Linked DNA regions of Homo sapiens. The protein of the gene in region 1 interacts with the protein of each later gene in a pairwise test. Each region holds a gene or a part of one and is shown in the gene's direction. Other genes may lie near its edges.

Evidence for each region.
Region 2: the proteins of INSIG2 (region 1) and BIK interact in binary tests that used the Homo sapiens proteins (3 or more experiments, as listed by UniProt).
Region 3: the proteins of INSIG2 (region 1) and LAPTM5 interact in binary tests that used the Homo sapiens proteins (3 or more experiments, as listed by UniProt).
Region 4: the proteins of INSIG2 (region 1) and TMEM52B interact in binary tests that used the Homo sapiens proteins (3 or more experiments, as listed by UniProt).

The regions. Positions count from the first base shown.
Region 1 is NC_000002.12:118,091,471-118,098,503, forward strand, and holds part of INSIG2 (insulin-induced gene 2 protein), read left to right. Parts: intron 1-4,948; 5' UTR 4,949-5,086; coding exon 5,087-5,330; intron 5,331-7,033. UniProt on the Homo sapiens protein: Oxysterol-binding protein that mediates feedback control of cholesterol synthesis by controlling both endoplasmic reticulum to Golgi transport of SCAP and degradation of HMGCR.
Region 2 is NC_000022.11:43,106,031-43,113,778, forward strand, and holds the start of BIK (bcl-2-interacting killer), read left to right. Parts: upstream 1-4,719; 5' UTR 4,720-4,773; intron 4,774-7,748.
Region 3 is NC_000001.11:30,754,756-30,762,566, reverse strand, and holds the start of LAPTM5 (lysosomal-associated transmembrane protein 5), read left to right. Parts: upstream 1-4,792; 5' UTR 4,793-4,821; coding exon 4,822-4,908; intron 4,909-7,811. UniProt on the Homo sapiens protein: May have a special functional role during embryogenesis and in adult hematopoietic cells.
Region 4 is NC_000012.12:10,189,014-10,192,319, forward strand, and holds the end of TMEM52B (transmembrane protein 52B isoform 2 precursor), read left to right. Parts: intron 1-882; coding exon 883-1,127; 3' UTR 1,128-2,791; downstream 2,792-3,306.

The DNA.
Region 1 (7,033 bases):
TGTTTGGATCATGGACTTTTTTGAGTACTTTATATAAATTATGGAACTTTCATCCCAGAAAAAAATGCATATATATACAACTTTTTTGTTTTGTTTCGCATGGGGGTCTCATACCCCTTGGAATAGATGATTTCCCAGTTCCCTGCTATTTCTTAAAGCTTTTATTTTTTGTCACCAGTAATTATATACTATTGTATTATGATGTAGTTACAAAATTAGCTTTTTGAATCTCATTCAAATAAATGTCAAGCAAATGTGTTATTTTTAAGGAAAACTTTTGGGGCGAAGTAGAAAACTAAACAAGCACTGCCAGGAAAGGTTAAATAAGCAGCTGTGGTAGAAAACATAAATAAACAGAAAGTCTCTAGCTGTCTTGAAATAGAATGAAGTCTGTAGCAATCAGTGGCTCTCATTGTGGGGACAGTTTTGGTTATCACAAATAGGGGAGGGGGCATTTAGTGGGTGGGAGCCAGGGATGCTAAATGTTTTGCAATGCTTAGAACAGTCTCACACAGCAAATAATTGTCCTGCCTAAAATATCAGTGCCCTTTGACAAATGCTGGTCAGTGTGAGATGGGGGCTAGCATGACTGAAATAGCTTTTTTAAACTGAAGTTATTTTCCTTTTTAAAAATACTATTAAACATAAAATACCCCTTTCCATTAATTCCCTTTTGGAAAAATCACAAACAGAAACAAATGATACGCTGTCTCAATGTGGGTTACTCAAAGTATGCCCATCTTCTAGCAGCTGTTAGCAGCACGTGAGGGCAACGTGCTGTGTCTACTGGGATCTGGGGAAGTAAAGAGTCAACTAATGTTCTTATACAGAGTGTTAGTTTGCTATTTTTTCTTTTTACTTTAAAACATTTTCACACCTTGATCTAGTACTATTAAAGAAAATTTCAAGGTGATTTTACATTTATTCTCATCATCTTTGTGCAATTGTATAGTCACCTGCTTGTTTTGGCTTACTATCTGAGAGTGTATTATAGTTGAGATGGTATTTCAACATCTAACCATCTTTTCAGTAACCAAACACTTTTATATAGAACCATCTGCCGAAAAAGAAGTCTGAGCAGTTGAGATGGAATGGAATTCAAGGTATAGAGGCAAGAGGATGGGTTTTGGAATCAGACCTGAAGTGGAATTTCAGTTTTGATACTGCATGTCATGTGACCATAAGCAAATTGCTGAATCTCTTTGACTTGGTAGCCTCATCTGTAAAATGAGGATGATAATGTCTACCTTTATGTTTGTTTTGAAGAGTAGAGTTACTATATGTCTGGCAGGGAGTAGGCCTTCCATAAATGGGTGCCCTATAAAGAATAATGATGATGATGATGAGGAGGAGAGTTCTGTAGCTACTGAACCTTGCTAAAAGCAACCAGATGATGATGATGATGATGATGATGAGGACGAGGAGAGTTCTGTAGCTACTGAACCTTGCTAAAAGCAACCAGATTATGATGATGATGAGGAGGAGGAGGAGGAGGAGAGTTCTGTAGCTACTGAACCTTGCTAAAAGCAACCAGATGATGATGATGAGGAGGAGGAGGAGGAGGAGGAGGAGAGTTCTGTAGCTACTGAACCTTGCCAAAAGCAACCAGATGATGATGATGATGATGATGATGAAGGAGAGTTCTGTAGCTACTGAACCTTGCCAAAAGCAACCAGATGATGATGATGATGATGATGAAGGAGAGTTCTGTAGCTACTGAACCTTGCCAAAAGCAACCAGATGATGATGATGATGATGATGATGATGATGATGATGATGGAGAGTTCTGTAGCTACTGAACCTTGCTGAAAGCAACCAGATGATGATGATGAGGAGGAGGAGGAGGAGGAGGAGGAGAGTTCTGTAGCTACTGAACCTTGCCAAAAGCAACCAGATGATGATGATGATGATGATGATGATGAAGGAGAGTTCTGTAGCTACTGAACCTTGCCAAAAGCAACCAGATGATGATGATGATGATGATGAAGGAGAGTTCTGTAGCTACTGAACCTTGCCAAAAGCAACCAGATGATGATGATGATGATGATGATGATGATGATGATGATGGAGAGTTCTGTAGCTACTGAACCTTGCTGAAAGCAACCAGATGATGATGATGATGAGGAGGAGGAGGAGGAGGAGGAGAGTTCTGTAGCTACTGAACCTTGCTAAAAGCAACCAGATGATGATGATGAGGAGGAGGAGGAGGAGGAGGAGGAGAGTTCTGTAGCTACTGAACCTTGCCAAGAGCAACCAGATGATGATGATGATGAAGGAGAGTTCTGTAGCTACTGAACCTTGCCAAAAGCAACCAGATGATGATGTTGATGATGATGAAGGAGAGTTCTGTAGCTACTGAACCTTGCTGAAAGCAACCAGATGATGATGATGATGAGGAGGAGGAGGAGGAGGAGGAGAGTTCTGTAGCTACTGAACCTTGCTAAAAGCAACCAGATGATGATGATGATGATGAGGAGGAGGAGGAGGAGGAGGAGGAGGAGGAGAGTTCTGTAGCTACTGAACCTTGCCAAAAGCAACCAGATGATGATGATGATGATGATGATGATGATGATGATGATGGAGAGTTCTGTAGCTACTGAACCTTGCTGAAAGCAACCAGATGATGATGATGATGAGGAGGAGGAGGAGGAGGAGGAGAGTTCTGTAGCTACTGAACCTTGCTAAAAGCAACCAGATGATGATGATGATGAGGAGGAGGAGGAGGAGAGTTCTGTAGCTACTGAACCTTGCCAAAAGCAACCAGATGATGATGATGATGATGATGATGATGATGATGAAGGAGAGTTCTGTAGCTACTGAACCTTGCCAAAAGCAACCAGATGATGATGATGATGAAGGAGAGTTCTGTAGCTACTGAACCTTGCCAAAAGCAACCAGATGATGATGATGATGATGATGGAGAGTTCTGTAGCTACTGAACCTTGCTGAAAGCAACCAGAATGCATGGCATGCTCATATGCCTGGATTCCACAGCAAGGAATGGTCTGCAGGATCAGGTCAGGAGGAGATGTTTCAGGGCATTTTCAGTTGGTATTTAGAGTATGTTTTCCCATGAATTAGCTATACTGTGGATTAGTTTTTTTAGTCCTTTAAGCCATAGAGTTCAATTACATTATAGACTAAGTAGGTCAGTGAGGACTAGCTTGGGAACAGAATTTCCTCTTGAATGTTGAACACAGAGCTTTGATGTGGCATAGCCCCAGTAAAAAGGCCCGTTGTCTAAGTGTTTATCACATGGAACTGACAGGTTGTGGAGGTTACTAGTACTTACAGATATTCTCATTTTCATACTAGTTATTTGTAATTCAGCCCCATTCTCTGCGGTTTACATGAGGGCTTTGTTCCAAAATTCATTCAAAGGTTGTTTGATACTGGAAAACTCAGAGGAAATGTATAAATTTTATGTGATGATTAGGAGCTAGGTTTGCTCTCAAAAAGGCCTACTTTACCCTATATGGTTTGATTCAGAAAGAGTTAACCCAATTTAATTAAGCAAATATGATTATGTGGAGCTCCCACTGTGGGCTAAGCAGGAACTTTTCTGGGTGCATAGGCACAGTGATATTAATATAATAGTGAATAAGACCTTCATAAAACATTTACAATCCATAAAGCAACTATACCTTTAATTAGAAAGTAGTCATTATAAGTGCTACACTTTTTAAAATAAACTGCTTTTGGATTGAAGGAAATATCATTTCTGTACCGATTTATGAAAGTGCCAAAGATATATTGTTGGATGGGATAAAAGTAAATTACCTGTGTAGTATTTTTCCCATTTAAAAACTGTTAGTATTCATAGAAAACATATCAAATATGTGACAGTTTGGGAGACTGAACATCATGGTAAGAATGAGGGCTTTGGAGTCAGACTGCATGGTTTTGAATCCCAGCTTGGCCTCTTACTGGAGATGTGAACTAGGTCAAGTGACTTAACCTTTCTTTGCTTTTTTGCGTCACCTATAAAATGTACATAATAATTGCACTTACCTCTGAAGGTTATTGTGAGGATTAAATGAATTACCACATGTCAGGTGCTTAAAACAGCACATAGAAAGCCCCAAAAGGAAAGATCACTTTGGTTAGAGGAATGAACAAGTACCTAGACTGATTGTAGTAGCAAAGTTTTAGGTTTTAGGAGTCAGGGACCAAGTGGATAAAACTCCTTAGAATCTAGCCATTAGATTGTTCTTCATTTTCTTCACTTCCTTTCTTTTGCTTCGTCCTCCAGCTTTCTTACAATCCCTTCTGTGATTGCAACAAGGGCAGACTGTTGAGACAGGAGTGGGATACAGTTGTGCCCCTGGGGAGAGTGAGTCAGGTCTGGTTTCTGTGTTTGGTGTATATGTAGGTGTGTGCGTGGTGGTCTGGTTTTGTAGAATGTTTTTGTGCGGATAACCAAATAATAAACATTAAAGCGGGTTATTTTGTTCTTCTGTGGAGGTTGTCCTTGTAAGCAAGTAACATTTTATTGCAAAATATACAGCGTCTTCAGTCAGAATATGCTTATCTGTAAAATATAAAATACAGTATTGTAACTGATAGGCTTAGAGATTTAGGGAGAAGAAACAGAGAGCAGGGTTTTACCCTCCAGATTCTAGTGGAAGTGTCAGATTACCTGTTCTGCTTTTCTCAGAGATGGAGCAAGCTGTTTCTACTATGATTCTAACCTTCAGGTCTCTTAGGTCATGTTTTCTGTCCTAGGAAATGTAAGGGTAGTACTTTATTTTTTATTACGTCTTGCATATAAAAATACTTTTAAAACTTTTTCTTATTCAATAAATAACTGTTAGTAATTTGAATAAATTAGTATACAAGCTTGTCATTTTCTTATTTGTCCATTTAAATTAACTAGTATTGAAATCAGTAAAATTACAATAATCATGTATTAGATACACATTAATTTCTTTTTTCTTATCTCTTGCAGGATTTCTGGTAGGTCCTACTTTAGGACAAGATGTGGTACCGTTGAAGCGTCAGTCTTTGATTCACAGACAGTTGAGCTTTTCAGCTGGGAAGCCTTTCCATTTTTTTTTTTTTAACGGCTTTCTGAACCTATGAAACCATGGCAGAAGGAGAGACAGAGTCACCTGGGCCCAAAAAGTGTGGCCCATATATTTCATCTGTCACTAGCCAGAGTGTGAACTTGATGATTCGAGGAGTAGTGCTATTTTTTATTGGAGTATTTCTTGCATTAGTGTTAAATTTACTTCAGATTCAGAGAAATGTGACGCTCTTTCCACCTGATGTGATTGCAAGCATCTTTTCTTCTGCATGGTGGGTACCCCCATGCTGTGGCACGGCTTCAGGTATGTGTAGGATGTTTCTGTAATGCTTAGAAAGGAAATAGGGTAAATGAGTATGGACGTTGTCTGAGCAATAAACCTTTTTAAAAAAGAAAATATATTTATTGAGATATAATTTAGGTATAATACACTGGACCCGTTTGAATTGAACAACTTGATGTGTTTAGGCAAATGCGTACAGTCACATGACCACTGCCAATCCAGCTGTGGAACATTTCCATCACCCTCCAGAGTCTCTCGTGTCCTCTTGCAGTCCATTCCCCACCCCCAGCCTCAGGCTACCACTGATCTGCTTTCTGTTGCCATAAATTATTTATCTCTGTTCTAGAATGCAATATAAATGGGCTCATAACGTATGTACTCCCTTCTGTCTCATTCTATCTGTCCTGTAAACTTTTAACATTTAATTCTGAAAAACAATCCTGTTTCCCTTAGGGATGAAGCATTTAACCCCTTAATTTTGTTCTTTCTTCAACCCATCTCATCTAAGTGTTATTTTAAGTTATTTGGATGATGAGCACCACCATTTGGTTTTAAGGGTTTGATGCATGTGCTGTAGTCTTGTTTCTGAAGTAATAAAAACTTGAATAATTAAAGTTTAAAGCTTCATGTTGTATTTTTGTAAATGCTTTTTTCCTTGGTATCTTGTTTTTATAAGTACCTTAGAATAATAAATATTTAAAGACATCTATAAGGTAGACTCTCTTTGCTTAAAATTAGTATCCTATTAGTTACTTTAGATATTTTTTTGGTGGTGGGCAGTGTGTAATGCATAGAGTAGAGCATTTCACAATACTTTATTGCTGCCATACTTCCACAATGGATAGCACTTTAGTGTTTTCTAATGACCAAGACCAATAGATTAATACTGTTTTTAATAATAAAGTAATAAAAGGAAACCATAATCATGTGGTAGAAGATAATTCTGATTGAAGGAGAAAATTGCTTTTTAAATACCCATTTGGTGTCTCATACTTAACATATATGAATGAATATCTTGCAACATAATATATGTCCTTCTTGGCTTCCATCCAAGAGCGGGAGGTTGAAGGATGAGGTTGCGCTTTACGGAAGTGTTAGAATGGCCTTGTGAAACTTGCTGGACAATTATAGAATCCTGTTGCACAGTTAGAGGGGCACTGTTGTAGTAAGGCTTCAGTGTTTATATACTGATGTCTCACTATTACATCGTTCACATTAAAAGTGAAGTCATGAAGGCAGTGATTCTTAGTTTCCCAGGGTTATCATTCTCCAAGAGAAAAGGCAAAAAATAGTCCAAATAAAAAACAAATTAAATTGTATCACTCTGCTGTATGTACTGGTCCTCATGCATTTTTCTTTCATTTAAATTCAGAAGAGAAAACGTTTTCTCAACAACTTTTCTAGTTCTTTGTTTCTTTTCTTCTATAGTATAGTCTGGCTGCCAGTAGAAGCTTTTTGGGACATGGAAGAGCATACATGTCTTTTCAGGATAGAACAGAGGGAAGGGAAACTGTTGTTTATTGAATGTCTGCTAATGTGCTAGGTACATCCTGTAATCCCAGGGTTCTGTAGAGCAACTTTGGGAGAGAGATGTTTGGCATTGTGCCTGTTATGGGGAGATGAGGACACTCACTGAGATGAAGAAAGAAAACCAGTGAGCCCAGGGTCCCAGAGCCAGTGAGTGGTGTGACTGGGTCCACATGTCACATGCTGGGGAAGGGAAA
Region 2 (7,748 bases), on another chromosome or scaffold:
CTACAAAAAATTAGCCAGGCTTGGTGGCAGGCGCTTGTAATCCCAGCTACTTGGGAGGCTGAGGCAGGAGAATCGCTAGAACCTGGGAGGTGGAGGTTGCAATGAGCCAAGATTGTGCCATTGCACTCTAGCCGGGGCGGCAATGCGAGACTCAGTTTAAAAAAAAAAAAAAAAGTTTTCAGAGGATGTACAACAGCTCTGTCCATGGAGGGCCTCACAGCTTCGGAGCTGAGTCCAGGCTGGGTGTGCAGAATGCCAGCTGACGGATGTACTGCTGGCCAGCTGTGGGTCGGGGGGCAGCCTGGGTACGCCAATCAGTTGGACGGAGGCTGCAATACCTCTATTTAGGAGCCCTGGGCACTCTCGGAGACAATGGGCATTATTTTCCCTTCAATACCCCTCCGCATGGCTGCTAGATTCCAATTCCTTAACCTCTTGTTCCTTTCCAGCTCAGTGTCCTTCCATAGCTCCCCAGTACCGACAGGATAATTAGGCCACATTCACCTTTCTATTCTGGTTGGAATCCAGTCCCTTCTTTGAATTCCCCTCAAATATCTCCTCCTCCATGAAGCTTTCCCTGATATATTTGTGTCCTCTGTGGGAGCCTGGCGCTTAGTTTTCCCTTGCTTGACGCCACAGTCACTTTCTGTCTGTCCCTGCATTGCCACTGTCTTGAAGGTAGGCATTTGGCATTGTCTCTGGCTTGGCTCTGGCTTCAGTTAAGACCAAACATAGTTTTCTTCCTCTTCTAAAAAAAGATAATGTTTTTGCACGTTTATCTAGACAATCCGGAAAATACATGAAAACACAAGGCAGAAAACTAAACCACGGCTGGGAGCGGTGGCTCATACCTGTAATCCCAGCACTTTGGGAGGCCAAGGTGGGCGGATCCCTTGAGCCCAGGAGTTCCAGGCCAGCCTGGCCAACATGGTGAAACCCTGTCTCTACTAAAAATACAAAAATTAGCTGGGTGTGGTGATGCACGCCTATAATCCCAGCTACTCAGGAAGCTGAGGCACAAGAATCACTTGAGCCCAGGAGGCAGGGGTTGCAGTGAGCCAAGATCACGCCACTGCACTGCACTCCAACTTGGATGACAAAGTGAGACGCTGTCTCCAAACAAAAACAAAAACAAAAACAAAAAAACAAACTAATAGGACCAGGCGTGGTGGCTCACACCTGTAATCCCAGCACTTTGGGAGGCCGAGGTGGGCAGATTCCCTGAGGTCAGGAGTTCAAGACCAGTCTGGCCAACAGGGTGAAATCCCGTCTCCACTAAAAATACAGAAAAAAAAAAAAAAAAAAAAAACATTAGCCGGGCGTGGTGGTGCATGCCTGTAGTCCCAGCTACCCTGGAGGCTGAGACAGGAGAATCTCTTGAACACAGGAGGCGGAGGTTGCAGTGAGCTGAGATGGCATCACTGCACTGCAGCCTGGGTGACAGAGTGAGACTCCATCTCAAAAACAAAACAAAACAAAAACAAACAAACAAAAACTCAATACACCTGTATTAGTATTGAGTTTAATTGACATACCAAAACATGCACAGTTCCTAAGCATTCAGCTGTTTGCATACATATGCACCCCTGCAGCCACCATCTGTGTCACCCCAGAAAGTTCCATAATGCCCCTTCCCAGCCAATACCCATCTTCACCCTGGAGAGGGAGCCGCCAATGTCACCTCTAGCGCCATAGATTAGGTGTGCCTGGTAATGAACTTCATGATGCCCAGAGATGACTACTATTCCCATTTTGCTGTGCTATATTTCCTTCCAGACTTTCACACATGGATTTTTTTTTTTTTTTCTTGAGACAGAGTCTCGCTGTGTTGCCCAGGCTGGAGTGCAGTGGCACAATCTCGGCTCACTGCAAGCTCCGCCTCCCGGGTTCACGCCATTCTCCTGCCTCAGCCCCCTGAGCAGCTGGGACTACAGGCGTCCACCACCACACCCAGCTAAATTTTTTTGTATTTTTAGTAGAGATGGGGTTTCACTGTGTTAGTCAGGATGGTCTCGATCTCCTGACCTTGTGATCTGCCTGCCTCGGCCTCCCAAAGTGCTGGGATTACAGGCACCTGCCACCTTGCCCAGCCATACATGGATTTTTAAAGAATATAGGATTCTAATGGACACAGTGATTTATACAGCATGCCATTTCATTCAATAGATCATGCGATCATGCATCTCCAAGACAGTTTCCTTCGTGAGCTTTTTTTTTTTTTTAGACAGAAGAATCTTGCTGTGTTGCCCAGGCTGGAGTGCAGTGGCACGATCTTGGCTCACTGCAATCAAGGCCTCCCAGGTTCAAGCAATTCTCTGCCTCAGCCTCCCAAGTAGCTGGGACTACAGGTGAGTGCCATCACACCCGCTACTTTTTTTTTTTTTTTTTTGAGACAGAGTTTCACTCTTGTTGCCCAGGCTGGAGTATAATGGCGTGGTCTCAGCTCACTGCAACCTCTGCCTCCCTAATTCTCCTGCCTCAACCTTCTCGAGTAGCTGGGATTACAGGCATGTGCCACCCCGCCCAGCTAATTTTGTATTTTTAGTAGAGATGGGGTTTCTCCATGTTGGTCAGGCTGGTCTCAAACTCCTGACCTCAGATGAGCCGCCTGCCTTGTCCTCCCAAAGTGCTGAGATTACAGGCGCAAGCCACCGCGCCTGGCCTAGTTTTTTAATTTTTAGTAGAGATGGAGTTTCGTCATGTTGGCCAGGCTGGTCTCAAACACCTGACCTCAGGTGATCCACCTGCCTTGGCCTCCCAAAGTGCTGGGGTTATAGGCGTGAGCCACCATGCCCAGCCATCTCTTCCTCCTTTTGATCAGCATATTGTCTTGGGATTTTGCAAAGTAAATAAGTACTGTATTTGCACCCACTCTGCCCTTGAATCATCCAGTGTCCCCAAACGGTCCTTCTTTCTCCATCTTTTCTGCTAATGTTTACTGAACATCTCCTACATACCTGGCACTGTGCCTCCAGCCTTAAGACCCCTCTGCAAGCATCTCACATATATCAGGTCTTTCGGACCCATGAGACCCCGTGTCATTGCTTTACCTCCCTGAGTCTCAATTTTTTCATCTGCAAAATGCATTCAGAGGGAAGCCCCCATTATGAAGGGTTCCCTGCTCCTGACTGTAAGGCACTCTGTGGCTGTTAGCCACAGTCAGGGCGAGCTGCTTTGTAGGGGTTGATGTAGTTTGGAGGCCCTAGAAGAAAAGACTACAGGGCCGGGAGTGGTGGCTCACGCCTGTAATCCCAGCACTTTGGGAGCCCGAGGCCGGTGGATCACCTGGTGTCAGGAGTTCAAGACCAGCCTGGCCAATATGGCAAAACCCCGTCTCTACTAAAAATACAAAAACTAGCCGGGCATGGTGGCACACGCCTGTAATCCAGCTACTAGGGGGGCTGAGGCGGGAGGATTGCTTCAACCTGGGAGACAGACGTTGCAGTGAGCCAAGATTGTGCCACTGCACTCCAGCCTGGGCAACAGGGCTAGACTCTGTCTCAAAAAAACAAAAACAAAAACAAACAAAAAAACCCCACAAAAGCAAAGAAGGTCCAGAGCCCGGAAGGCGGGAGGGGCTCTGAAGACTTTATCACACTTTACCTCCTCTGTTCCTCCCAACAGCCCAGCTCTTGGTAGGTGCTGTTGTCCATTTCACAGATGAGAACATTGAAGGGGAAGTAATTACCCTAGAGGTGGGAAGAACAGAGTGAGGGTACCCAACAGGTAGCAAACGACAGAGCTGGGGGAGGGGAACCCCTGTCCCTGCCCCTCCCCTAATCTCTGAGGGGATCAAGACAGAAGTAAACAAGCTTTGCCGTGCCCAGGACAATTGTTACTTTGTTATTCCAGGAGCGCTCTGCCTTCTCCCACCCCCAATATACCCCAGGGCTGGAGTTAGGTCCTACCCATCCCCGCGTAGCAGGCTGCCCACCCGCCCACCCCGCCTGGAAGCTTTCTGATTTCTCTGTTCGCCCCGCCAGGCGCTGTGGGGTCCGTCTCACCAGGTCTGCACGTGAGCCCCCTGCCCCCAATCCCTCCCAGTCCCGCCCGCCTCTCGCGGACCCGGAGCCCCGACGGGAGGGGGAAGGCAGTGGGTGTGTCATGCAGCTGGAAGGCTGCGGACGGGCGGCAGTGGAGGGGCAGCCCCCTGGCTTCGGGTATGGATCACTGGATGCTGCTGCTAACCAAATGTGAACCTCGGTTTTCATATTTGTGAAATAGGCTTTAAAACACCTAAATCCCAAAGCTGCCAGCCTAAGGAGCACACGTCTTTGAACGCTGGCTTCACGCTGTCATTTAAGTCATTTCGTCCTCTTGGAGCCTCGGTTTCCACGTGGGTAAAATGATCGTGAAAAAAAGCACCGAGGAGTACTTTGAGCTCGAACGGAGGCCATCCGTGTAAAGGGCCAGATTCTGTCAATGGATCGATCCCCCCGATATTGATGGAAACCCCTGAGTGCACGCCCGTGCTGGGCGCAGGGGAAACAGCGACGCACGGGACAAAACAAGCTTGCAGAACAGCAGGGGGCAGAGAGGCTGTAAACAAGCCAACGGGCTGCACTTGTAGCGGTTCTGTTGCCAATGCCATTCAGACCCCAGTCCGGGATTCCGCGCTCGGGGTGCGAGAGGCCGCTCCCGGGGAGGGGCGGGACCCGGGCGGGGCGGGAGGGGCGGGGCGCCCGGGCCTATTAGGTCCCGCGCCGGCAGCCGGGCCGCAGACACGAAGCCTCCCGGGTGGCTTACAGACGCTGCCAGCATCGCCGCCGCCAGGTGAGTGCCCCCGACCCTGCTGCCGCCCGCTGCTCCGCCCAGCTCGAGCCCGGCGGTTAGCGCCCAGGCCGCGGCCCGGGTGCCGAGCGGCTGGAAGTGTGGGGAGCCGTGCCCAGGTTTTACCGCTCCAGCAAGTCGCTGGCGGGGCGACGTCTCGGGACTCCGGCTCCGAAACGTACCCTCTCTGTCCGGGGCTCCAGGTCCCCGACGGGCGATCGTGCCAGGCGCGGCCCCTGCGGGCCTCAGTCTCCGCGCCTGTGCAATGGGGTGGTCCCTCTGCGTCTCGCCGCGACGGCTGGACGCCCCATCGCCGCCGCACAGTCCTCCAGTGCGGCTTCCGGGCACCCGGCTCCGAACTCTGGGGTCGTGCGGACCCGGCCAGACCGTAGCGCGGCAACGCCAGCCCACGGCCGCGGCCGCACAGCCCCGGTGCCCTTAAAAGAGGGAAGATGGCGTCGTGCCCGGTGCCGCCGGGACCGGCTCCCGGAGGCGCTGCGCACCTGAGGAAGGGCCGAGGAAAGGCTTCGTAACGGGACGCCCAGAAAGTCCGGAACAGGAACGTGCACACGGAGCGGCGCGCAGCCGCCCGCCCTCGCTTGCCCACGCGCCCTGCACAGGTGCGCCCCAGACTGGGCGGGGACTAGAGCCCGGCTGGGGCATGCGACCTTGTTTGGTAAATTGGAGGTGCGCCCCTGCGGGTGACCCGCGAGGGGGCCCCCCGCCTGCGGGGCGCGGTCACGACAAGGCTTGTGGGGTTCGGAGCTGGTCGTCGTCTGGGCTCTGGCCTCCTAAATGCGATCGCTTTCAAGCCCTTCATTGTCAATTTTGCTAGAATGAGCCACTCGTGGGGTAGGACGTGGTTGTTGATGTTACTGTTGTAGCTCTTACTATTGTAACATTTTTGTTGCTGTTTTAACGCAGTGTTTACTGTGGTCTGGGAGCCCGAGCTTCCCAGGGAGCATTGGTGTCAGCCTCATGTCCCCGCATTAGGAGGAGCGCAGTCTGGTGGGCACTAGCGCCGGGAAGTTCTTAACATCTGTCTGCCCCTGGGAGCAGGAGGCCTCATCTTCCAGGTGGAGAAACAGAGATTTCAGTCCCAGGAGGCACAGAAATGCCAGGGTTGTCTAGCTAGAAGCCAAGGGCCCTTTATGGAACCCAAGCCAAAACCTCTTTCCACTCTCCAGCCCTGTGGCCTCGGAAGGGCCACTCCATCTCTCTGAACCTCAGTTTGTTCTGTTCACTCTGCAAAATGTATCCCTGAGGTTTCTGGCCAGGTGAAAGCCCCTCTCAAGTTAGTAGCCTCCCTGGAGTTAAGACTCACCCCGATTTCTACTTAATTTGGGCACGCCTTTGGAATAAGTTCTCAGGAATGGCACAGTTTGGGTGTTTTTTGTTTCTTTTTGTTTTTTTTTGAAACAGAGCTTCGCTCTTGTTGCCCAGGCTGGAGTGCAATGGCGCCGTCTCGGCTAACTGCAACCTCGGCCTCCTGGGTTCAAACGGTTCTCCTGCCTCAGCCTCCTAGTAGCTGGGATTACAGGCGCCTACCACGAGGCCCAGCTAATTTTTTGTATTTTTAGTAGAGATGGGGTTTCACCATGTTGGCCAAGCTAGTCTCGAACTCCTGACCTCAGGCGATCCACCCGCCTCAGCCTCCCAAAGTGCTGGGATTACAGGTGTGACCCACCCCGCCCGGCTTGAGTGTTTAAATACTCCTGCCTCAGCCTCCCAAGGTGCTGGGATTACAGACGTGAGCCCCTATGCCTGGCCCTTTTTTTTTTTTTAATTGTCTTAAGGATGTTAAGACTAAGATTCTCACACATTTGACTCGTGCCTGTAATCCTAGCACTTTGGGAGGCTGAGGCAGGAGGATTGCTTGAGCTCAGGAGACTAGACTGGGCTAGACCAGACTGGGTAACATGGTAAAACCCTGTCTCTACCAAAAATACAAAAAATTAACCGGGCATGGTGGCATGTGCCTCTGGTCCTAGCTACGCAGGAGGCTGAGTTCAGAGGCCTACCTGAGCTTGGAGGGGTTGAGGCTGCAGTGAACCCTGATCATGCCACTGCACTCTAGCCTGGGAGACAGAGTGAGACCCTGTCTCAAAAAAAGGAGCATTAGGCTGGGCATGGTGGCTCACATTTGTAATCCTAGCACTTTGGGAGGCCGAGGGAGATGGATCACCTGAGGTCAGGAGTTGTGAGACGAGCCTGGCCAACATGGCAAAACCAGTCTCTTTTAAAAATGCAAAAATTAGCCGGTCGTGGTGGCGTGTGTCTGTAATCCCAGCTACTTGGGAGGCTGAGGCAGGAGAACTGCTTGAATCTGGGAGGCAGAGGTTGCACTGAGCGGAGATCACACCATGGCACTCCAGCCTGGGCCACATAGGGAGACTCTCTGTCAAAAGAAAATTTAAAAAAGCATCAAATGGTAGATCCCCAGTGTCTGTTACAGCTTGGGTACTCTATGGCTGGATAGAGAGGCTGCATACATGTTAGTTATTGTAAGTTTGTTTGTTTTTTTGAGACGGAGTTTCGCTCTTGTTGCCCAGGCTGGAGTGCAATGGCTGGGAATACAGGCGTGAGCCACCTCACCCGGCTCAAGATTCTTACACATTTGACTTGCCTGTAATCCCAGCACTTTGGGAGGCTAAGGCGGGAGAATTGCTTGAACCCAGGAGGCGGAGATTGCAGTGAGCAGAGATGGTGCCACTGCACTCAGCCTGGGCTAACGTGAGACTCCATCTCAAAAAAAAAAAAATTACGTCTTGTGTCACAGAGCTGCAGATAAACCAGAGACTACTCATAACCGTGTACTTTTTTTTTCCCCCATTTCTGATCCCGTCTCAACGGAAGGATGTAATTGAGGAAGGGCTTGATTGGCCAGTGAGTCTTGAAGCTGACACCACTGCTGGTGGTATTTTCCCCTCTCCCTGGAAAGCATCCTGTTTTTAGTGAACCTATTAAATGTGTAGACA
Region 3 (7,811 bases), on another chromosome or scaffold:
GGGTTTTCCAGCTCCCCATGGATAGTACGGCTGCACCCATGATCTAAAATGCTCCGTCCTGGGGTGTGCCCAGAGCTGTTATTCAGCAGGAGGCTGCTGGCTCGGCTATGCAGACTTTGCAGCCAGTGCTCCTTCTGCCTGCTGGTCCCATCTCCCTGGAGCCTTCAGCCTGCAGTGCCTGTGGCAGCAGCAGACTAGGATATGGTGTCATTGTGCCCCTGGGTGCAGCCAGGGACCCCTGGACTGCCTGGCTGAGGGGAGGCCTCCTTGGAGTGTCTGGCAGACCGTTGGGGTCCCCTGCCTGCCCACTGGACTCAGCAGCTGGTCATTGGAAGGTCTGGTTGTCCCCAGGCCACAGGCCTGTGGGCTGTCCTTGCCAGGCTGACCCTCCAGGCTGACTTCAAGGCCTGGGCCCCTTCCACAGGCAGGGGAGTAGGGGAGGGACCCTGTGGGTTGCACGTGTAGGCCCTGACCCCTGGTGACCGTGCTGGGTTCGGGGCAGGAGACAGGAGAGAATGCTCTGCCGTTTCTCACATTTTTCAGGCCTTTGGCTTTGGCCCTACACATTCCAGCCCCAAACCTCAAAGGCAGAAGTGAGGTGGGGCTTGCAGCCAGAAGGGAATCACAGGCCAGTGGTCTGGCAGGAAGCTGACCTTCAGCCTGGGTGAGCTGCAGGGGGCACCCAGGAGCCCCTCGGGAGAAGACAGCCCTGGAGCTACCTTGGCTGCCACCACTCACATGCCGCCCACGAAGCTGTCCCCAAGGAGGACCTGTGTCCTGGCTCTGCTCCTGACCAGCTGTGTGTCTTGCAGCAGATCACTGGCCCCTTGGGTCTACGGGAGCTGATCAGTGCCTCTCTGCTGCCTTCCTCTGCTGGCTAGGGCTGGGGGAGGCTCAGCTGAGAAAGGGTTTAAAGGACAGGAAGAATCATAGTGACAATCGTGATCAAAATGCTTCCCACTGTGCAGTCCTTACCGTGACCCAGCCCCTTCTAAGTGCTTCATCTAGGTTAATGGAAAGGACACAAGACTCCCAAACTCTTTGTTTAAATACAAAAGCTGGCAGAGTCGTGGGTTTTATTTTTACCTCCAGGCCTATGGGTGAAGAGGGAAGTTCCAGTGATGTTCTTCTGACTTAACAAAGAAAGCTTACAACTAATTCTGCCTTTGAGGAAACAGAGCTGTCTGTTTAAATATTCATATACCATGGCAGCAAATTATTAAGCCAGATAACCAGCCAGAATTACAGACCTTTTCAGGATTAAAGATGACTCTCTAGGATCTGGGAACCATGTCTGAAGTCAGGGGGTCTTAGAAGATTCCTTTGTCAGAAATAACATTGACAAGGGCAGTTTGACAAGCAGATTTGTATCTGCTCTGCCGTGGCTGCGGTGGCATGGAACATTTCCTTGTCCTTATCTTGATGAATTCAGAGGGTCTGAAGTTTTCAAGGGTTCTACCACTCCACAAAGAAGGTATGAAAAGCAACTTGAAGAAGCTCAAAACTTATCATTCGTAACGGAAAACAGCAGAATATAAATAGTGAGCTTATGTGGTGTTGCCACCTGCATGTACAGACAACGAGATGGGCATTATCATTATCCCCGCTTGGCGCAGGAGGAAGCGGAGGCTCAGGGAAGTTCACGACTTGGCTGGGGTCACACAGCAAGGAAGTAAGGGCTGCACTTGTGCAGATGGGGACTGTGGTCTCGGTGGAGTGTGTTGGGCTCCAGCGACGGGGCCCCAGGCTCAGCTGTTGCTTCCACTGAGCAGCTGTATTTGTTCCCTGCGGCCGCTATAATAAAAGACCAGAAACACAGTGACTACAACAGACATTTATTGTCTTACAGTTCTGGAGGCCAGAAGTCAGGAATGCGCCTCGCTGAGCTAAAATGAAAGTGATTCCCTTTCGAGCCTCTAGAGGAGAAGCCATTTCCTTGCCTTTTCCAGTTTCTGGATGCCGCCTGCACTCCTTGGCTCATGGTTCTTCCTCCAACTGCAGAGCCAGGAGTGTGGCATCTTCCACTCCCTCTCTGACTCTGATCTTCCTTCACTTATGGGGACCCATTTGATGACCTCAGGGCCATCCAGATAATGCAGGATAATCTCCCCACCCACCTCAAGATCCTGAATTTCATGGCGCCTGTGAAGTTTCTTTGCCATGTAAGGCCATGTACGCACAGGTTCCAGAGATTAGGGTGGATTTTTTTTGGGGGGTGAGAGGCACTATTCTGCCTATCACAGTGGCTTTGGCCAAAGGGTCTGACCTTTGGGATAATAGCCGTCCTCTCCACAGGGGGTTTGTTGGGAATGACAATAAAGTGATTCAGGCTTGTACTCCACAGGGAGTGACTGAGGTGCCTGCCAAGGGGCCAGTGTGTGCTGGAGCCTGGTGACCCGGTGAGAGACAAATGACTGCATCAGAACTCCTGCTTCTGCGAGGGAGGTAGTGCCCGAGGGGACTCAGAATCAGACAGATCAGGGGTTCAATCCCAGCTCTGCCTCCTCCTAGCAGCCTGAGTACGGGTGAGATCGGGGAGCAGGGACGGGCTGGAAGGGAGAAAACAAACAGATGCATTCACGTGACCTCATTTCACCTTCACCGCAGCCCTGCCAGGCAAATTTCTGTTCCCCCCAACCGCCCCGCCGTTTTGCAGAGGTGAAAACAACAGCTCAGAGAGATCAAGTGCCTTGTCTGACACCACACAGCTACTAAGTGGGGAGCTGGGATTCCCCATGCCCCAGGATTCCCAAACGGATGCCACCTACTCCACCTCCAGGGCTGTCTGCCACATCTGCGTCCTCCTAGGCTGTGGCTTCCTTAATATGTTCTTTAAATTGACTTACTGCCTTTTTTATTTAAATGCATTTCTTTTAAAATGAGACTTTATATTACTCCTATAAATGGAAAATCACAGGATTCATGGACTAGTTATGTATATTTTTATAATGCACATTAAAATGAATTTATCACCATAAAAAATGAGAAATGTTTACCCATAGACCATGTACAATTATTCCACATGCTGTCAGTGTGTTTCATCCCTCTCTTTGGGAGTTGGCTTTGCACCTGTCCTGGTTTCACCAAATCACAATGTTATGAATGGCTATCATTTATTATGGTAGGAAATCGTCAAATGGCTTCTGTGCACAATCAAATGCAGACTCCCCAGCATGGCCTCAGGGCCCTCCTGGCCCCTGGTTTCCTGATCTCCAGTTCCTCTGGTCTTGCTACTCTTAGACAAAGGAGGACTTCTCTTGGTTTTCTGCCTACCCAGCCAGAAGATCCCAGGCCATGGGCCTGTGGAGCCAAAGTTCTTAACCACTGCACTGTGTCACCTTTCTATGATGTCAGGCCTCAGCAAGGCTTATGAAGGAACAGGAACAGCCTTGAAAATGAAGTTGGGAAGGGATAGGCCAGGCCTCCCAGGAGCCCAAAGCTTGCAGAGTCCCCTTGGTCTCATTGGCACATGGAGAATGGATTGATCAAGTCCACCAATCAAGTTTTGTGGGTCTAACAGAGCAACTCCTGCCAAGTGGGAGGAGCTTAGGGACTTTCTATAACCTCTCCTGGGGCAGAAATGATGGGCTGCAGCAGTGTCCAATCCTAACTCCATGATCTCCTGGGAGGGCAGGGCTTCATGGCAGTTCCTGTCTGCTCTGCACTAGAAGCTTGGCATTGCAAAGGGGCTCAGCTGTGGAATGAAGCAGGGCTTCTTCCAGAAATGTTGCATGTACTTCCTATTCCCTTTCTTTATTGCAATATGGATAATTTATCATCTGAGGAGGGAGTAGAGATTCCAGGGTAGCTTGCCTAAGAGTTGTGGCTTATTAATTCCAACTTTTTGCAAGATCAAGGGGGAAAAGCAATCCCTGATTTTGTGTGAGTATGGGGATTGGGTCTTGAGGCCCTGAAAGTGAGGTTCGGGTCTCACAGATTGCTGTGAAGAGTTATTGACCCACCTAGAAGAGAAGCCTAGCCCAGGGCCTGGCGCACAGTTGATGGGTTTGCTTCCTGGTTATTCTTCCGTCCTTGTCTGGAGCCCTGCACGCCTCTTCGTAGCTTAGGAAGAACAAGCTTCTCCCTGCGGCTCAGGGTGAGGAAGTGGGAGAGAACACCAGCTCCAGGGAGGCTTCTAGCACCAGTCAGCCTCAGTTAAAATCCTTGCACCTTCATTGACTAGCTGTGTGACCTTGCACGAATCATTCCCCCTCTCTGTGCCTCAGTTTCTTCATCTGTAAAATGGGGATCATAATAGTACCTCTCTCAAAGGATTGAGGTGAGGATGAAAGGAGTGAATCCAGGAGCATGCCTGGAAGAGGCAGGAAATGCCTCCTAGACAATAGCTATTTTTGCAGCCAGACAGATCTGGGTTTGAATTCTGCCACCAGTGCTAACTACTGTGTGATTTGGGGCAAGTGCCTTGACCTCTCTGGACAGCTGTTTCCTCATCTGGAAATGGGCTTGGTAACAGTCCTGGCTTCCAAAGTTGGTAGTGTTCTTCTAGTAAGCAAGCTGTGTGAAACGGTGGAACCCTGGCCCTGGTGCAGAGAAGGGCATGATGACCGTGTTAGGGTCTGTCCTCTCTGGAACCCCCTCCTGGGAATGGCAGAGGGCAGTGGGGTGCTCTGAGGCAGGCTGCTGCCCTGTCCCCACTCCCCCTCCCCAGCTGCCCCGCCCCAGCTGTGACGACCTTGTCCCTGCCTGTCTAAGGGGCAGGAAGGAAGTGAGGAGGGCAGCCAGCAGCTTCCCCTTCTCTGCCCTGCTCCAGGCACCAGGCTCTTTCCCCTTCAGTGTCTCAGAGGAGGGGACGGCAGCACCATGGACCCCCGCTTGTCCACTGTCCGCCAGACCTGCTGCTGCTTCAATGTCCGCATCGCAACCACCGCCCTGGCCATCTACCATGTGGTGAGTGTGCGGGCCCCGGGTGTGTGTGCGTGCGTGCTTGTGTGAGTGTGAATGTCTGCGGTGACCCGTCATCTACGGAGCCCCACAAATGAAAGAACTCCTGCTCTCCACCTCTCTGGGGGACCCTGGGCAAATCCCTGTCCTGCTCTGGGCCTCAGTTTCCTTCTCTGTCAAATGGCTGGGGGTACCCTGGGGAGATGCCGCAAGAGTGAGGAGTAAGGGAGCTGGAATCCACTTTCCAGGCAAATGTAACTGACGTTCACTCCGAGGCTGGCTCCGTTTCTGCCTCTGTGAGATGGGGCACAGCAGCAGCCGGAAGGTTATTTGTGTGCAAAGCCAACAGCAGATGTGAAAGTGCTTTGGAAGGCAGGGATCTTGGGAGGAACGTGGGCTGGGATTGTTTGACCGGGATGTGAGGTCGGCCGCAGACACAGCCCCGATTCTTCCCCTGGGGCCTGGAGGGAGCCTGGGCCACTCGAGGGGATGAGAAGTGGGGATCTCCCCTTTGTGCCTCCAGTGGGGAGGCAGGGGCCGTGTCCTCTCAGCTTCCAGCTCAGTCAAACCACGGCCTTCTGCCCACCAAAGAGAACTTGAGACCTGTGCTAATCATTAGGGTAACTTGTCCGGCCCAAGCTCTTGTTGGGCAACTTGTGAAGTCACGGCTGTCACTGGTTCCTCCTTTCCTGGTGACTCACAGTGTGGTCTTGGGCAAGTCACAGTGCCCGGGGGCCAAGGCTGCCCCTCTGCCTGGGGTGGCTGAGGGTCAGTGTCCTTGTACTGTCCTGCCTAGACCCACCCTACTCCCAAACTCCTGGCCACACTCATCTCCCCTAGACCCAAGCGACTTCCTCCTGGGGTGACTCAGGGCCTGTGGTTAACAGTTTTCTCATGAGTCTGGAAGGGCTTCCTCAAAATTAGCCTAGATCCACATGCTGCGGTGGGTTGCTGCAAACTCAGACCTGCCTGCGTCTGCTTCCTGTCACAGGCAGGGCAGGCAGAGCTGTGGCAAGAGCCCAGCCTTCAGGGGGGCGATGCTGTTCAGTGGTTAGCCCACGGCCTCTGGATGCAGACTCCTGCATGCAAATCCTGGCTTCCCTGCTTCCCAGCTCTGCAGCCTTGGGCAATTTACTTAACCTCTCTGAGCCTCAGTTTTCTCATTTAAAAAAATGGGGATGTGAATTATCATACCCATCTGATAGGGTTTGTTGTGAGGCTCAGGGAGTTGATACATACAAAGCATGCAGAACCACGCCTGACGCACAGGTGAGTGCTTTATTATTCGTTGTGCATCAGACATGGCACCTGCTGTCAGCATCCTTGGAGTCAAGTTGTCAGATTCAAGGACTCTAGTTTTGGGAGGAGGAACTCAGAGGTTGTCCTTCCGAGCTCCTGCCAATGCAAGAGCTGAGAGAAGCAAATCACTCTTTGAGTGTCCCTGTACCCTGTATTTTAGGCCTTCAAGCTCTGAGACTATGCACATTCTTAGAAGGACAGTGTGGCATGCAGGGGCGCCTCACAGGTAGCAAGTCCCTGGGTCCTCACCCCAGCCCTGCCACTAACTGGCTGTATGGGCTCAGACAAGCCTCTCTCTGGGCCTCAGTTTCCCTTTTATAAAGTCAGGGGTAAGGTGATGTTGACTGGCTCAGAGGTCTCCAACTCTGATGCCTCTAGGGTCTGGGCAGGCCATGTGAGTGACAGCAGGGGGCAGATGGGGCCTGCGGTGACCCCGGGAGCCCTTGCTTGGCCCACCCTGCAGCTGTTCTCTGTTTTTGCTTGTTGTTGCCACGAAGGATTGTGGGCCCTGGTGGCCGCTCTTCTGATGTTTAGAGAATAGGGAGCAGGCTTTTGTGTCACATCTTCTGATGTTTCAATGCTAGTGATTGATGCATGGTAGAAAAAAATCTCAGTGCAGGCCAAGTCAAATCCATTTGCAGGTTGTGTGGGCCCAGAGGCTGCCCTGCAAACCCGGGACTGTGGGGCTGTTAAGGTTTCTTGTTGATCGTGCCATCCGATGTCCTCACCTGTAAATGGTGGTGTGATATACGGTCCCTGCTCACAGAGCTGAAGAATGTGTGGGCCCTAGCAATCATGGAAGACTTCTTGGAGGTGGTGCCATTGGCAGGAGGGAGAGTTTGGTTGTGGGCAGTATGGAAGGTGAGGAGAAACAGGTGAGCAATGGCGTATGTGTTCGGCTTCTACAGGGACACAATAGAGACAAACCTGGAGTTTGGGGAGGAGGTGATAAAGGTTTTGAGTGACAAGCTAAGAAGTTGGATCTTCTCTGCAGTGCACCATTGATATTTTGGGCTGGATAATTCTTCATCTTGGGGGAGTGAATTGTGCGTTAGAGGAAGTTCAGCAGCATCCATGGTCTCTACCTACTAGATACTAGCAGCACTGCCCATCTCCCTACCCTGCCACTTGTGATAACCAAAAATGTCTCTAGTTATGGGGCCCAATCTCTCCCAGTTGAGAACCAATGCCTATGAGTGATGAGACGTTCTAGAGCAGGAGCAAGCAAAAGAGCAGAGGGGTGTCCTGGAAGCTGTGCGCTCGGCCCAGGTTGTCTCCAGGCTGTGGTCCTCAGTTGACTCCAGTGGGGGGTTATCTTCCTGCACCCCGAAAGAGTCCTCTCTCCTTCCCAGAAAGGGCAGGGCCTGGGGGCTTTCCCATAGGCTAGCTGGCAACAGGTGTGCTGATAGGACCTTGAGCATCTGGATGGAAAAAGAGAAGCTGTGGTCCAGATGTGTCAATAGCCCATGCTGGCTGTCATCTGGACCCAGCCATGGGTGACGACTCTGCACATCATGAGCTATTTGTGGACTTGGCCCCTCTAGGGAGGGTTAAATTGAGACCTTGCCATCCTGAGACAGTGCCACGCTCTATTGAGTCATGAGGGCGTT
Region 4 (3,306 bases), on another chromosome or scaffold:
CTCAAAAAAAAAAAAAAAAAAAAAAAAAAAAAAAAAAATTAGCCAGGCACGTTGGCACATGCCTGTAATCCCAGCTACTCGGGAGGACGAGGCAGGAGAGAATTGTTTGAACCTGGGAGGTGGAGGTTGCAGCGACCCGAGATTGTGCCACTGCACTCCAACCTGGGTGACAGAGTGAGACACTGTCTAAAAAAAAAAAAAAAAAGAAAAGAGATGAGGTAAAAATAAATAATCCTAAGGAGTCTATAGTATCGGGGGCTGGGGGAAAGGGATCTAAGTCTGAAAGGGGAAAGGGCAGGGTTGAGTTGCAGGATGCAGAAACATTCTTGGCTGGGTGTGGTGGTTCACTCCTGTAATCCCAGCACTTTGGGAGGCCAAGGCGGGTGGATCACCTGAGGTCAGGAGTTCAAGACCAGCCTGGCCAACATAGTGAAACCCTGTCTCTACTAAAAATACAAAAATTACCTGGGCATGGTGGCGGGCGCCTGTAATCCCAGCTACTTGGGAGGCTGAGGCAGGAGAATCACTTGAATCCAGGAGGCGGAGGTTGCAATGAGCCAAGATCCACCATTGCACTCCAGCCTGGGCAACAAGAGCAAAACTCCGTCTCAAAAAAAAAAAAAAAAAAAGAGAGAGAGAGAGATACAGAAACATTCTTTAGATTATTTGAGGTTACCAGAGAAAACAGGTCCTTCTAGCAGAGCAGGAAGCTGGGTTGTAAACATGCTTCAAAGGATATTCATAAAATTTGGGGCAAGGAGTGACAATGAGTTTGGATACTTGTAAAAAATGAAGCGACAGTTAAGTGTGAAGTAAGTCTCTGCTGTCTGAGGGTGTCCTGTTTCCCTTAGTTTCTTAGCTCTGTTCCTTCTTTCTTCACAGCTCTGCAGTCGGTGTTTGGCCCTGCAGCTCGGAGGATCCTGGCTGTGGCTCACTCCCACAGCTCCCTGGGCCAGCTGCCCTCCTCTTTGGACACCCTCCCAGGGTATGAAGAAGCTCTTCACATGAGTCGCTTCACAGTAGCCATGTGCGGGCAGAAAGCACCTGATCTACCCCCAGTACCTGAAGAAAAGCAGCTGCCTCCAACAGAGAAGGAGTCGACTCGAATAGTTGACTCTTGGAACTGATGAGAGCTGTCATTTTATAAATAGGAGTGGAGTGATGTCCAGAGTCTGTGGGAAAATGGAACACATACTTTTCTAACCCTCAGAAGTTTTAAGATGGCATCTAACACCATCATTCTATGGGAAAGATGGTTCTTACTCTTCGTTCACAGGCCTTTATATCTTCCGATACAGAATGCTCTAATTGGGAACTCTAATTTTGTATCCAATGGCCAAAATCTGCAAGTAATCTCTAGCCACACTGATTACTACTAAACCAGGAAAGCATCAAGGTGTCTTGAATTCCTTTAACTATTGAGTGCATATAGAATTCCTGTACCCACATGATACTGCAAGTTGTGTCTCTCTCTGTCAGCGAATCCACTGCGGTTAACTGGAAAAGAAAGACAACAGTGTCAGCACAGCCATCGACATTAATGCACTGAATGCATGCATCTTTCCTCCTGAGACAGCAATCGATTTTACACCGAATGACAATGATCATCTTAGACAGCACAACATACCCACTCGGATATCTAAAAGCTAGGGATGGCATTGCTGATATGGGCAAAGAGAACACAGTATAGTATTTAAGTGCCAAATATCAGTCTTTCTTTCTCTCTGGTCCTACCCCTCAGCAGTATGAAAAACTCCATACTGTGCAGTCACAGTTGGATTAATTCTTCAGTTCCTCCGCACTGCAAACACATATATGTGCGCACATGCATGTATACCTGCACCCTGTTTTAACTCTAAAGGAATAGTGTTGCTTTACTTCTTTCCTGTTTTGCCTGGACCACTTAAAGCCACAACACCTCTATAGTGACACACGCTAGTCTCTAGTGGTGGCCCTCACTGCCACCTAGAGGAGCCATGGTGGAAAACACACTCTCTCCTTTGAGCCTATCTGCACATCTCTCGAGTTCTTGGAGCAAAAACTAAATGCTGAACTAAGCCTGGTTGAGATGCTTCCCATGGACCATGCCGCAGCACAGTGCTAATCTATCCACAAAACATACCACCTCCCAAAGTATTATTATTGGAAAATCGAGGAAGTGACGCACATTTAGGGAAAAACTACTCACCTTAGAAAAGTCACTGAAATCCTTTTTTTTTTTTTTGAGATGGAGTTTTGCTCTTGTAGCCCAGGCTGGGATGCAATGGCATGGTCTCAGCTCACTGTAACCTCCACCTCCCGGATTCAAGCAATTCTTCTGCCTCAGCTTCCCGACTAGCTGGGATTACAGCTGCCTGCCACCGTGCCCAGCTAATTTTTGTATTTTTAGTGGAGAGGGGGTTTCACCATGTTGGCCAGTCTGGTCTAGAACTCCTGACGTCAGGTGATCCGCCCACCTTGGCCTCCCAAAGTGCTGGAATTAGAGGCCTGACCCCCTGCTCCTGGCCTGAAATCTTTAAAGCCGTTTTTTCCCTAAAAAATGGGAAATAATAACACCTCAGAAGGTTTTTGTGAAGATCAAAGAAGCTAAATATATGTGGCATGATTTGTAAAGTGTTATGCATATGTATGTTATTCTTCCTACTGTCTTCTAACCTTCCCTTGCCTGCTATGACTTATCTGAGAGCCATGTTCCCATTTATCTTTTTGCCAACTATGTTACTGTTGTCACACCTGAAATGGCTTTGTTTTTATCAATAAATACTTGTTGATTGCGGTAAACAGCAACAGATATAAGTGATTCCTCGTAATATGTTCTGGGTAGAGGTAAGGAATATTTGAGAAAACTAATTGTTTATTAGGCAATTAATTAACTCCAGAACTCAAGGAGGCAACACAGAGCCAAGAATTGGCTGATTATGCAGCTCCTTGTTAACTACATTCTTGGAATGCTCACTCAGCCCGGAGGGAAAAATGTTCTGAGTATAACCTGCTGGGGATCTGAAATTATCCTGAGTCATTTAACAAATTGGCTCTGGGAATTATTGAAATGCATGAATTGCTAATAGCGCCTGAAGGGACCTTGTTTTACTGCTGCCAAATGAGTCATTTAGTCATCAAAGACACATTCCAAAAGACATTCTAGGCTCTTCTATTAAGGCACCAGGACATCACAGACTTGGCAAAGGTAAAATGTTCATTGGCATTAGAATATCTTGGGGGAAATCTTGCCTATAATGTCTTATCCTAAAGGATAAGACATAATGTCTATTCCTAAAGGAATCTCTCTTCCCCACATCCACTCCC